4 linked regions of the Homo sapiens genome follow. The protein of the gene in region 1 purifies or fractionates together with the protein of each later gene. This does not show direct contact. Each region holds a gene or a part of one and is shown in the gene's direction. Other genes may lie near its edges.

Region 1 (3,500 bases):
TCTTTTGAGCACCTTAAAATGGGGGAAGGCTTGTATCTTCTCTCAACTTCTTTTCAGTAATTCTTTCATCTATATGTTTACTCATTAATTTGATCATTTATTTATTTATTCATTCAGCACTTCCTCTGTGCCAGGCAATGTGTAGTGCCAGTCCCTCCTCTGGTGGAAGAAGAGTAGCTTTACCATATGGTGACATCAGGCATATAGGCTCTCGTGGAAAAAAATTCTAGGATAGTATTTTTTTTTTTTTGAGATGGAATCTCGCTCTATTGCCCAGGCTGGAGTGCAGTGGTGCAGTCTCGGCTCACTCCAAACTCTGCCTCCCAGGTTCAAGCAATTCTCCCACCTCAGCCTCCTGAGTAGATGGGATTACAGGCACACGCCATCACGCCCAGCTAATTTCTATATTTTTAGTAGAGATGGGGTTTCACCACGTGGCCAGACTGGTCTCAAACTTTTTTTTTTTTTTTTTTGAGACGGAGTCTCGCTCTGTCATCCAGGCTGGAGCGCAGTGGCACGATCTCAGCTCACTGCAACCTCTACCTCCCGGGTTCAAGCAATTCTCAGCCTCAGCCTCCCGAGTAGCTGGGATTACAGGCCCCCGGCACCATGCCTGGCTAATTTTTTTTCTTCTTAGTAGAGATGGGGTTTCACCATGTTGGCCAGGCTAGTCTTGAACTCCTGACCTCGTGATCCACCTGCCTTGGCCTCCCAAAGTGCTGTGATTACAGGCGTAAGCCACCGCGCCTGGCCTCAAACTCTTGACTTCAAGGGATCGGCCTGACTTGGCTTCCCAAAGTGCTGGGATTACAAGCATGAGCCACTGCACGGGGCCTAGGATGGTATATTGAGACCAGGGGCCCAGGAAAGCCAAGAGAAGCCTCAAGGACGTGAGAGTGTTTTCTGGCTCTGGGAAGTATGGATCATTTCAGCTCAGTGACTTAGTTCCCACCCCCTTCCCCCCACTGCCTTTTGTGGGAGGGAAGTAGGGCATGATAAGATGAAATGTCATAGATTGATTGATCACTGTTGGCCTCTGGGGCTATGACAAGTCATGGATGGAAACACTAGATCTTTAATCTGTCCTTGGCTTGGCTGCATGACAGTCTTTCTTCAAGTTGGATCACACTTTGGAAGCAGAGTTCATCAATAGGGAGGCATGAGTCCCTTCAAGATGGTATACGGTGCTTATTTGAAACTTGGACACTAAAGTCTGTGGGTCTTAGGAGGGTTCCTTCTATTCTAGTGGTCAATTTCCATGGAACTTCATCACCTTTGCTCAGGGCTCTGGGGTGAGTTAACCCAAGTCTTCACTCTTTGAAAGAAATTGTAGATTTAAAAACTCTGAAGACACATAATACTGCCTTCTCTGGGCCCTTCAGTCATTTTTGTATACATTGGTACTGGTCTCAAAGTACTTCCATATCACTCATGTCTCTGTCCCCAGGTAAGATCTTAAATGTAACCCTTCCTACAAGAAGAACAGAACAGAACACTGCTTCCAAACCACACATGTTCCTTTGGTCCTCCCCTCTACACAAACGCCATGTGTTGGGAAAGCAGGGTGAGACTGAATCTCTCTGGAGAAAAGAGAGATTCAGCACCAAGCTTTTGATCAAAAGCATAATCCCCCCCTAAAAAAAGTGCCTATTGGAGCAAAATCAGGAAAACCAAAGGCAGAGAACAGATAAAACCAAAAGGCCTTTTGTAGCCTGAGGAGAGAGCATGGAAAGGGCAGGAGGGGAACAGCCTCACCCATTTTGCCTTGGGGATGGTGAAGGTGGGCATTGGGGGATTCCAACTTCAAAGCATGGATGACTTCTAAGTCCTTTTCAGCCCTGAGCTCTTAGATTCTGAGCCTGTTTAATCCCTTGCTGATAGATTCACTCTTCCTTTTTCACCCCTACCACCAGTATCCCAGAGCCTCCATGAGCAGCTGGCCCCAGTAGATGCCACAAAAGTGTTTGTTACGAGAAGGACACCGTCCTGATTCTCTTCTCTGTCCAGAATCACCAAGAGGACTTTTCCCATTCCAGCAAGAAAACGTCTGTGTGTTGATCTAGAGGCGTTTAGAGACTTTAGGTGGCAACCTAGTCTCTCTTTTTCCCTTTATCCTTCCTACCCTTCATTCTTCTTTTATCCTTTTATTCATCAGAACACAAGAGTTGAGCATTTATGCTGTCCCAGGTACTGTGCTTGAAGGAGTTAACAACTGAGGTGGCTATTAGTCAGAGACTGACCAGCATGTGCTCACCACCCATGTTAACTAGGCAGCCCACCAAACCCACCACCATTTTTTTTTGACTTCTATAGGTATTTAAGTTTGACACCATATCTGAGAAAACATCTGATCAGATCCACTTCTTCTTTGCCAAACTGAACTGCCGACTCTATCGAAAAGCCAACAAATCCTCCAAGTTAGTATCAGCCAATCGCCTTTTTGGAGACAAATCCCTTACCTTCAATGAGACCTACCAGGACATCAGTGAGTTGGTATATGGAGCCAAGCTCCAGCCCCTGGACTTCAAGGTGAGTTGCAGATGTTACCCCTGACCTCCGAGTTCTTCCTCTCCACTCAGAGATTGAGGAGGTGGAGAAACAGCATCCAAATTCACACTGCTTTGCTGCTGAAGACTGCTGGAGGGCTGACTAAAAGTTAGAACCCCTGCAATAGTTATTCTTACTTGAAACCTGAGAAATCAAAGGTATCCATGCTTGGATTGTAGTGACTGCCCAGAAAACATGAATTAATAATCAATTCTTCATTCCATCCACCAACTTCAAATATATACCAAAGGGTGTTTTGAAGATGCCAGTTCTACAAGATATCTTACTTAATTTGAACTGTTATCATGGTCAAATAAAGTTGGTACATGATGCATGTTACATTCTCCTCTTGGAGATTCATGAAGCACATGGGCCTATGAAGGTTCTGAGAAACTCTGCAACAAAGAAATCTGTTGGCTTTATTCAATCGGCATTCCTCAAATGTATTTGACTGCATGGGCATTTCTCTCCTCCATATAACCTGCCAACCCCATATAACCTGCCAACCCCATATAACCTGCAATCATTCATTGCTTCCCCTGGCACATGCCTTGGAAATTCTACTTTTGTGAGTTAAGGTTTTCCAAAGTCAGAGAAAATAATATTTTATCTTCTTTTTCCCAGACTATTTTCGCCTTCCTTCTTTTCATTTATTTCTTCCTATTTCTTTTTGTTCTTTTTCTTCTGATAATATTTATTAACTACAGGAAAGATTCATGGAACTATATTAGATATGTGAGGCTTCCCCAATTTGGGTTAGAGCAATGGCTTCTTAATCAAATGGTGGGAAAGGACAGAGGGATGGTGAGAAAAATAAAATGCTGCCTGGGAAAATGGAGAAGCCAATTGAATAGCACAGGTGAGTAGGTTTATTTTCTGTTCTCCTCAGGAAAATGCAGAGCAATCCAGAGCGGCCATCAACAAATGGGTGTCCAATAAGACCGAAGGCCGAA
Region 2 (3,500 bases), on another chromosome or scaffold:
ATATGGTGTTTAATATCAGTGTCTCTTTAGCTATTATATTAAACTACTATAGTTAATACATTTTATCATTATTTTGTATGTTGGTTTTTAAAAATTTCATAAAGCTATAAAAAGATACTTGGTCAGATAAAGTTTCCTCTGCTTTTAATTTTGATAAAGTATTATGTATATGATTTCTTTTTACCTATTATATATATGCATCTATTGTTTTCTCACTGGTAAATATGGGACGGACATTTTGTTAGAAGGTTAGAAGTGAGTTAAATTTTCACATTCCCAAGGGTACTTTTGTCTCGGGTTGTTGAATATATTTTAAAGTGTTTATAATAATCACTTCAAAATATTTAGGTAATTAACTGTAAATTATGTTTTGGTATTCTCCAGGGACAGTGGCCTTAGAGCTATTGAGAATTTGATGCAAAAGAAGGGGAAATTTGATTACATACTGTTAGAGACCACTGGATTAGCAGACCCTGGTAAGAAGTGAGATTATTAATAACCAGAATATAGTTCTGTGATATATTGTAAATAGATGTATTAGAGGAATATCTAAAATGAGGATTAAAGCTTTTGTTAGTATTAAACCAAAAACTTTTTTTGGTTTAAAAGAGGAAAAGTACTCGGTTGTCATTTTCTTTGGCAGTTGAATGAATGAACAGAGTATTTCTTGGTACTTTTAAGCTGTTAATAGAATTTGAAGTTTTATTGATTGACTTAGGATTATTTGTAAGAACAGAAGTTGTTAAAAATAAGGACATGTAGGAAGAGCAGAGACGTTCTACCTCTAAGTACAGTTGTCCCTTGGCATCCATGGGGTATTAGTTCCGGAATCTCTGAGGATACCAAAATCTATTAATGTTCAAGTCCCTTACATAAAATGGTGTAGTATTTGCCTATAAGCTATGCACATCCTCCCATATACTTTAAATCATCTGTAGATTACTTATAATACCTAATACAATGTAAGTGCTGTGTAAGTAGTTATTACACTGCATTGATAAGGGAATCATGACAGGAAACTCTGAACTCTACTATGGAAAGCTACACAGAGTCAACCTGTTTCTAACAATGGGTTTCTGTTACCTTCTTACCAAGCTCTAATTCTTGATAAAGTCTGCTTATTTTCCCCAAATAACTTTTAGATAAAATCTTTATTTTCATTTTGCATAAAAGTTAGTGCTTATTCTGTGAATCTGACCCATACCATTATTTTTTTTTTTGATCTGGGTCTCTGGCATTGGGGCGATTTGTAAAACTATATTAAAGTATTTGGGGGTAATTTACTCAACAGGTCATAGTTGTCCAAAAGAAATATTGAAGTATCCTGAGAGTTCAAATGTGATCAGTGGTTATTGTACTTAAAACAATTACATAATAACATCATCCCCATGTTTTCAAAGTAGTATTGAATTAGGCTATTTTGGTCCTTATAGTAGGCATGGGTTTTCATACCTTTCTGATAAATCTGACTGATGATAGGACTTGGACTAATATGTTGGTGTTAAATATTTGAATCTGGTAAGAAAGAAAAATATATTGTATGCTTTTATTAGAAATAGCAAATATCAGTTTATTTCATCATAGCCAGTTTTGCCATTTTATAGACAAAAACTTGATACTTTTGAGAGTTTAATTAAACACGATTCAGCTTTTCAGAGGAAGAAAGAAAAACTAAAGATCACAGAGAAAGCTTTTATACAAATTGTAGTTATAAAAAATGTTAATGTTTCTTGCTTCTAACTTTCTTTACAATAAAGATTTTATTGTTTGGGTAAAGATGGAACATTCATTGTAAAAAAATTTAAATACCTAAAAAATACAAAGAAGAAAGTTGAAAAGTAATCATCTCACTTTTGTGATATACAAGTAGGGGCTGGGCATGGTGGCTCATGCCTGTAATCCCAGCACTTTGGGAGGCTGAGGCAGGTGGATCCCTTGAGGCCAGGAGTTCAAGACCAGCCTAGCCAACATGGTGAAATCCAGTCTCTACTGAAAATTCAAAAACTAGCCAGGCGATGTGGCGCACCCCATAATCCCAGCTACTCAGGAGGCTAAGGCAGGAGAATCGCTTGAAAGCTGGGAGGCGGAGGTTGCGGTGAGCCGAGATCACGCCACTGCACTCCAGCCCAGGCAACAGAGCAAGACTGTACACACACACACACACGCACATGCACATGCGCACACACACACACACACACACATTCATACACACACACACACAAGTAGGTACATTTTATTCCAGGGATCTCTCTATGCCAGTGCTACTTGGTAGTATGTTGAATGGCAGCCTCAGCCTCAGCTGGGAGCTTGTTAGAAAGGCAAATTCTTGACCAACCCAGATCTACTGAATCGGAATCTCTAAGGGAGGGGGTCAAGCAAGCTGTTTTTAATAAGCCCTTCAGGTGATTCTTATACTGTACAGCCATACCGCAGGGATATTGTGGGCTTAGTTCCATATCACTGCAGTAAACTGAATATCACAATAGAGTGAGTCACACACATTTTTTTGTTTCCCATTGCATATAAAAGTTATGCGTTTTGGCCGGGTGTGATGTCACAGGCCTGTAGTCCCAGCTACTTGGGAGGATCACTTGAGCTCAGGAGTTTGAGGCTGCAGTGAGTCATGATTGCACCACTGCACTCCAGCCTGGATGACAGCATGAGACCCCATTTCTTAAAAAAAAAAAAAAAAAAAAAAAAAAGCTGTGTTTATACTATACTGTAGTCTATAAAATGTGTAATAGAATTGTCTAAAAAACATACATACCTTAATTAAAAATATTTATTGCTAAAAAATGCTAACAATCATCTCAGCTTTCAGCAAGTCATAGTCTTTTTGCTGGTAGAGGGTCTTGCCACGATGTTGATGGGTGCTGACCAATCAGGGTAGTAGTTACTGAAGGTTGGGGTGGCTATCGCAATTTCATAAGATAATAATGAAGTTTGCTGCATTAGTTGACTCTCCCTTTCATAAAAGATGTCTCTATAGCACATGATGCTATTTGATAGCATTTTACCCACAGTATGACTTCTTTCAAAATTGGAGTCAGTCCTCTCAAACCCTGCTTTATCAATTAAGCTTCTGTCATATTTTAAATCCTTTGTTGTCATTTTGACAGTGTTCATAGCATCTTCACCAGGAGTAGATTCCATCTCAAGAAACCACGTTCTTTTCCCGTCCATAAGAAACAACTTCTCATTAGTTAAAGTTTTCTTATGAGATTGCAGGAATTGAGTCACATCTTCAGACTCCCCTTCTAATTCTAGTTCTCTTACTGTTTCCACCACATCGGCAGTTATTTCCTCCATTGAAGTCTGGAATCCCTCAAAGTCATCTGTGAGGGCTGGAATCATCTTTCAAACTCCTATTCATGTTGATACTTTGATCTCCCATGAATCACAAATGTTCTTAATGGCATCTAGAATGATGAATCCTTTCCAGAAGGTTTTCAATTTACTTTGCCCAGATCCATCAGAGGAATCACTGTCTATGGTAGCTA
Region 3 (3,500 bases), on another chromosome or scaffold:
TCAGAGAAATTAGGTTTCAAATTATCTTGTACTTTACATTAATTTTAAAAAATTACTGAGAAGGACGCAATTTATTTTTGATGATGTTTCACTATCTCCAAAGAATTAGTTGCAACTCAGGCTGTAATAAATTGACTGGAGAACATCCTACATTTGGAGAGAGAAAAAACTATTGGGTAACACCCAGATCACTAATCTGTTTTTTTTCAGTAGTTTCTAAATCATCTAGTTAAAAATTACTACCTGCTGCAAGTTTAGACCTAAATACCCTTATCCTTTGAAGACTGTTGAGGTTGCTTCAGAATTTTTATAGCTCTTTGCAAAATATTATTAGCATGGAATAACTGGGTGCATCCATAGGCTGTTTAACTAATACAGGGTAGCATTGCATTCTTCTTTAAAGGAAATTGTAACATTTAAATTCATTAATTTAATGGCCCAGTTTATTGTTGATTAAATTATCAGAAGCTAAATTAGTTTTATCTCACAACCAGCTGATTGTTTTATTTCACGATGGGCCTGAAATTCTGTAAATATGCTAATTTCCTGTTATGGTGAACATCCTGCTACTCTGCTTTGCACACACTTCATAGTGCTCTCATTCATTTAGCAAATGTTTTGGCATTTAATATATACCAGTCACTAGGCCAGGCACTCTCTCAGCAAATTTTAGTGTTGGAGGTCTCCTATTAAATAATCTCTGGGATGTGTGGGATTTTTAGATCAGATAATTACATTTTTTAAATTTAACTTTATGCTAGAGAAGAAATATTTACTTCTTTATAGCTTTTTTGTCAAAATACTACTCATGTGTTACTGTCGCCTGTGTCCATATTTATAGAAGGCTACCCAGTTATATCTACCCAAGTATGAACCATTTTGGGAATAATCAAAGCCATGTGATCTATTGGCTCTAATGTAAGGTAAGTAGAATAAATAAATCGCTACCCCAAAGTAACTCATGCTTCTGTTTTTCTCTGCCCTTTAAAGTTCCAGAAGCAAAATGTTCAAAGGTTGAATATTTTACAAGCTTGGAACTGAAAGAATGCTACAGTGTGTCAGACCAGCCATGATTCATCCAGCCCAAGCCACAGAACAGTGTAGAGGGAGAATATGGTTATCCTTGAAAATGATGGCCTCAGAAAGCAAGGTGTTATACCAGCTATGAATTAATAACAGTCTAGACTAGAAGGAATTTTGTTTTTTTTTTTAATCTAAAAGGATTCAGGAGGTAGTAGTTGGTTCAGTAGCACAAAGATGAACATATTTGCATTCTTTTGGTTAAGGTTTGCGATTTCCTGGACCTTTCATTTGTCTCTCAAGAGGGCTAATCATCATGTCTGCTTTTCAGGCAGTATATAGAAAAGGATGAGGGCAAAAAGGCTGACTCGCAACTTCCATATGTGCGCGCGTGCACACACACACACACACGCACACACATGGAAATTATAGATATATATTCCCTATCTATCTATCTATCTATCTATCTATATTTGGCTACTCCTGTCTGCAAAGAAGTCTGGGAAATAAAATTTTTCAGTCAGTCCTGTTGCCCAAAGTTCTTTAGTAAGGAAGAAGAGAATGAGTATTGGGTAAGTAGAAGTTAAATAAAAAATTATTCAGTGACACTTGTTAAGGCATGGTAAGGAAGACTATTCAGGACCATCACCATAGATGTAAGGACTACTGTAACGGGGTCCCACAGCTGGGGAGAGAGATTGGGCCCAACTCCAAAGACAGCATGGGCAAGTGAGAATTTACAGCCAAGGAGCAGAGTCAGTGGATAAGAAATTACTAAGAGGAAACATCAGGGGTAAGGGGAAATCTGGAAAAACCAACCTAACAGGATTCTTGCTGAAGGCAGGCCAAGGTGATCAGATACCACCTGGAGGTTGGCTGGGGGTGAAGAACCTGATCAGATATCAGGGATGGGGGCAATTCTTGCTAAACTGACTTAGCAAGGTTCTTTCCTAAAACTGGGTTTTACAAGGAAGTGCATAGATGGACCTAGCAGAAGAATTAAAGCCTGACTAAAGTTTGGCCAAGCAAAGAGTCTTTGTCACAGGCAACTAGCACTCCCTGCCATGAGTGCACGTGCACATACACTCATGCACTCCTCAAAACATTCCTCTCTCCCTGGAGCACATGTGAATGATTATCTATGAATTGATCTTGAGCTTTCCTGTGTATCCTTTCAGGTTATATTTTTTCTTCTGAGTTTTTAGCCCTAGTTAAATCACACAGTCAATTCTCTAGAAATAGGATTGTGCAGTGGAAAGAGCACTGGACTTGGACTGAGGGGACCTGATAAATCTGGTTCCAGTCCTCTGACATCTAAGCTTCCATTTCTTCCTTCAATTAATGGAAATGAATTACCGTCTCTGCCTGTTTTACAGGCTTCTTATAAGATCACATGAGCACTTTTAATGTCTGTAAAAGTGCATTGTAAACAGTGAAGCATTAAACAGTTAAATGTATGGTATTGTTATGATGCCTGTGTTCAAAATCAAGCTACTCATCTTCCCAAAAGAATGAGCTATTGCTCCTGACTTCTCTTATGGCAAGTCACCAAGTCTAGACACCTCAGTCTTTTGGCTACATCTGACTCCCACCCCACATCTCTGGTTGTAATAGCCTTTGATATTATTCTCTTAGTATTTCTTCATCTTCACCATATCTGACTTACTCACTGCCACCCCTGTTGTTCAGGCCTGTATCATACTTATCGCTTGGCTATTGCAATAGCTCTCTGAGTCAACTTCAGGTCCAACTCTCCCTTCCCACCTCATATCTCTACATATTTCTAGACAGCCCTCATTTTTAGTGGATATAGTATACTATGGGATTGCCTTGTCATAATTTAGTAAATATTTTTCTGCTTTGGGGCATCAGGTTGTTTACATTTTTTGTTGTTATAGTGTGGTAGTAGACATTTGTGTGTGTGTATGTGTATGCTGTACATAGCTTATGATTAATTATTTGTTACAGTAAATTCCTTTAACATGAGTTACTGAGATAATGAACAGTTCTTTCATTTTTCCCAGTTGTTTCCCAAAGGATGATTCCAATTTATATCCCATGAAAAACAGAATACTATTTATCATGAATATATTATAGCTTTTCATAGTGTAGGGATCAAAATATGCCACCCCCAAATATGCCACTTTGGTATATTGATTATTTTGGGTAAAAGGCATTGAAAAGGCTGGGCATGGTGGCTCATGCCTGTAGTCCCAGCACTTTGGGAGACCAAGGTGGGTGGATCACAAGGTCAAGAGATTGAGACCATCCTGGCTAACATGGTGAAACCCCATCTCTACTAAAAATATAAAAATTAGCTGGGCATGGTGGTGTGTGCCTGTAGTCCCAGCTACTCAGGAGGCTAAGGCAGGAGAATGGCGTGAACCCGGGAGGCGGAGCTTGCAGTGAGCCGAGATCCCGCCACTGCACTCCAGCCTGGGCGACAGAGCGAGACTCCGTCTCAAAAAAAAAAAAAAAGA
Region 4 (3,500 bases), on another chromosome or scaffold:
TTGTCTCCCCAGGGACACACAGCTCTCTCCTCATCCACCACTTAGCACACAATTCTGGCCATTCCAAAGACTTCAGATGAAGAAGTCCTGGTAGACAGTTTATGAACTGGGATTATGCAGGACGTCTCCCTCGGATTTGCAGAAAGGGGTACCATTGAGAGAGGGAGGAGAGGGGCCGAGGTCACAGAGGCTGTTAAAGGCCTCCAGCCCCAGAAAAGCAGGGATTCAGTCTGCCCAACTGTAGGGCCTTGAATCCCTTCCTTCTAAGCTCCTTCCAGCCAAATGTGTGTTCTGCCAACCTGAGCTGCCCCAGCCCCAAACAAACTCAGCCATGCCCTCCCTGCCTGCCCTTCAAGACTTGACCCTTCGGCTCTTTTCTCCACCCCTGGCCTCTGGAAAGTCCATGCCCCATCCTCCTGCAGCCCTGCCCTTCCCTCCCCATCTCGCTCATTCCCCCTTCTCTTCTTTGAGGTGTGCCCGGCCGGGGCAGGCGCCCTGGAGCCTGGCGCCCCAGGCAGCTGCTACCTGGATGCAGGGCTGCGGCGGCGCCTGCGGGAGGAGTGGGGCGTGAGCTGCTGGACCCTGCTCCAGGCCCCCGGAGAGGCCGTGCTGGTGCCTGCAGGGGCTCCCCACCAGGTGCTTCCCAGCGGGCAGGGGCTCTGCGGGGAGATCAGGATGGCAGAAGCGACCCAATCAAGGCCGCAGGCATCCAACATCCCCTCAATACCCAAGAGCCGGGCAGGGCAGGGAGCCGCACGCTGCTGTGGGGAAGAGATAACGGGGGAGCCAAGAGGCCTTGAAGTCACTGAGCCCAACTGGGACTGGCGCCAGAGTCCACTCCTGGTCTCCTGGGCATGCTGATGTCAGGGGGCTCGCAGGGAGACTTTAGGGTCTCTCCAGCAGTTCTGAGTCCCGGTTTTGGCCACAGGCTTTGAGGTGTCCAGTGGTGCATCCAGGAATCTGCTCTCTGAGAGCCAGGGGTCGGGGGTGGTTGTCATTAGAGGAAGCGAACCTCAGGGACCAGGGGGACAGGGAGAGGATGTGTGATCTTGAGCCTCACTGTCCATGTCCCCCCGACACAGGTGCAGGGCCTGGTGAGCACAGTCAGCGTCACTCAGCACTTCCTCTCCCCTGAGACCTCTGCCCTCTCTGCTCAGCTCTGCCACCAGGGACCCAGCCTTCCCCCTGACTGCCACCTGCTTTATGCCCAGGTGAGTGGGATGTGGGCCAGCAGGCTGGGTGTGCTACCCAAGCCTCCCACCTCCCTGTGCCACAGCTGCAGTGGACATAGCAGATCCCACCCTGTGCCAAGCAGGCAGCCACCCTGTGCAGGGGCAGAGTATTCCTTTTGTTTAGTTTGTTTCATTTTGTTTTTTGAGATGGAGTCTTGTTCTGTCACCTAGGCTGGAGTGCAGTGGCACTATCTCAGCTCCCTGCAACCTCCGCCTCCTGGGTTCAAGTGATTCTCCTGCCTCAGCCTCCCAAGTAGCTGGGACTACAGGCGCCCACCACCATGCCTGGTTAAATTTTTTTGGGATTTTTAGTAGACGTGGGGTTTCACCATGTTGGCCAGACCGGTCTTGAACTCCTGACCTCAAATGATCCACCTACCTTGGCCTCCCAAAGTGCTGGGATTACAGGTGTGAGCCACCGCATCTGGCCAGAGTATTCCTTTTAAGTAGGGTGGGGGACAGCGGGTGGGCCCAGGAATGTAGTTGAAAATGCTTTGTCCTCTCTCTTTTTCCTAGATGGACTGGGCTGTGTTCCAAGCAGTGAAGGTGGCCGTGGGGACATTACAGGAGGCCAAATAGAGGGATGCTAGGTGTCTGGGATCGGGGTGGGGACAGGTAGACCAGGTGCTCAGCCCAGGCACAACTTCAGCAGGGGATGGCGCTAGGGGACTTGGGGATTTCTGGTCAACCCCACAAGCACCACTCTGGGCACAAGCAGGGCACTCTGTTCCCCTCCCCCTTAAGCCAACAACCACAGTGCCACCAAGCTCACACCTGTCCTTCTCAGGCTGGCATCTCCCCCACCCTGTGCCCCTTTTCATGGTACCAGGCCCGCACTGGGGGCAATTGACTTCCTCCAATCCCCACTCCTCCGAGACCCAGGAGACAAACAGCCCTTCCTTGGGGAAACTTGGGAATCATTCTGGCTTAAACAACACCTCCTCCTGCTGCTCACTCCCGCTGAGCCCACTCTACTGCCCCAGCTCCGTTTCTACCACCGCATCCTCACTGGGCTCACTGCAGGCATGCTGAACAAGGGGCCTCCAACCTTCTGCCCTCCTGCCAAAAGATCTGGGGAGTGTGAGGAGAGGGTGGCATCAGGAGCTGCTCAGGCTTGGCGGAGGGAGCGGCATGGGCGATGTCACTCAGCCCCTTCCCGGTCCGCCCGCTTCCCTCCTTCATGATTTCCATTAAAGTCTGTTGTTTTGTGACTGCTGCCAGTGTGGTTGGCCCTGCCCCTGCAGGCCACATGGTCCAGGGAGGGAGGGGGACATGGAAATCTGCCTTAGAGACAAATGGAGTAGGGCAGCCCGGAGCTGGGGCCCAAGGGACAGGACACCACTGCCTGCTCTTCGTCTGGGGCCTGGGGCCTTGCCTCCCACTGAGGAGACTTTGGGTGGGGTGGGGGGCTGTCCCCCAAAGATGCTCCTGAGTGCAAGAGCAGGCAAGGCAGAGTCCTGGGGCACAGCCACGAGGTGACCTCCCTGTGCAGAGACTCCCGAGCCCTACTCCACCCAGCAAGCTCCAGTCCGCCCCATCTCTCCCGTCTACCCTGACCTGGAGATCCAGAAGTATGGCCCAGAAGAGCCCTTGCCCCGCCTGTCTGCCCTTGGTGGCAGTGGCCATGGCCGACGCCAGGCCCAGCCACCCTGGGACTGAGCCTGACTGCTTCAGACAGCCGACCCCTCCTTGTCCCCGCTCCACGCCCGCAGCCTCCTGGTGGCGCTCCGCCCTCTCCCGCTTCCTTTGTGTATCTCAGCCCTACAAAGAAAAACACTCCCACTCTTGTCATACCTAATTGTTCCTGCTGTGGTTTGGGGAATTTTTTTTATTAAATAAAGTTTTTTATTATAAGGGTAATATACTTTCAGAACATTCAGAAAATAAGAAAGTCACCTTCTAGCCCATCATTACACACCTCCAACTACTATGAGTATTTTGGCATATTCCCTCCCAGTGCTTTCCCCAAGGATTTGCTGTGCACATAGCTGGATTGCTGTGTTTTGTCCTTGGTTTCTTTCTTTCGACACCATATCATAATCATTTTCTGTGTTGCTACCTAATCTTCATTTTAAATGACTGCTTATATTCCATTAAGTGGCTTTGCCATGATTTACAAAACTATGCTTTATTTAAAAAAAAAAATGTAGGGCTTCTTTCATTGTTTGGAGAACTCAGTTATTTTCATTTTTTTATGGGATAAAGAGGAGAAAAGAAAAGAAAAAACTGAGAACTCTACAGTTTACTTTGCTTTTGTTTTCATTTAAT

The links. Proteins that work in one complex are often made in the same cells at the same time.
Region 2: the proteins of SERPINC1 (region 1) and ZNG1A purify together in Homo sapiens (affinity purification with mass spectrometry; one large-scale study listed by BioGRID and IntAct). This does not show direct contact.
Region 3: the proteins of SERPINC1 (region 1) and HSPBAP1 purify together in Homo sapiens (affinity purification with mass spectrometry; one large-scale study listed by BioGRID and IntAct). This does not show direct contact.
Region 4: the proteins of SERPINC1 (region 1) and HR purify together in Homo sapiens (affinity purification with mass spectrometry; one large-scale study listed by BioGRID and IntAct). This does not show direct contact.

What each region holds. Positions count from the first base shown.
Region 1 is NC_000001.11:173,910,828-173,914,327, reverse strand, and holds part of SERPINC1 (antithrombin-III isoform 1 precursor), read left to right. Parts: intron 1-2,313; coding exon 2,314-2,529; intron 2,530-3,436; coding exon 3,437-3,500. UniProt on the Homo sapiens protein: Most important serine protease inhibitor in plasma that regulates the blood coagulation cascade. AT-III inhibits thrombin, matriptase-3/TMPRSS7, as well as factors IXa, Xa and XIa. Its inhibitory activity is greatly enhanced in the presence of heparin.
Region 2 is NC_000009.12:169,057-172,556, reverse strand, and holds part of ZNG1A (zinc-regulated GTPase metalloprotein activator 1A), read left to right. Parts: exon of another isoform or gene 1-68; intron 69-384; coding exon 385-476; intron 477-3,500. UniProt on the Homo sapiens protein: Zinc chaperone that directly transfers zinc cofactor to target metalloproteins, thereby activating them.
Region 3 is NC_000003.12:122,783,832-122,787,331, reverse strand, and holds part of HSPBAP1 (HSPB1-associated protein 1), read left to right. Parts: exon of another isoform or gene 1-923; intron 924-3,500. UniProt on the Homo sapiens protein: May play a role in cellular stress response.
Region 4 is NC_000008.11:22,114,011-22,117,510, reverse strand, and holds the end of HR (lysine-specific demethylase hairless), read left to right. Parts: intron 1-471; coding exon 472-636; intron 637-1,082; coding exon 1,083-1,211; intron 1,212-1,748; coding exon 1,749-1,811; 3' UTR 1,812-3,092; downstream 3,093-3,500. UniProt on the Homo sapiens protein: Histone demethylase that specifically demethylates both mono- and dimethylated 'Lys-9' of histone H3. May act as a transcription regulator controlling hair biology (via targeting of collagens), neural activity, and cell cycle.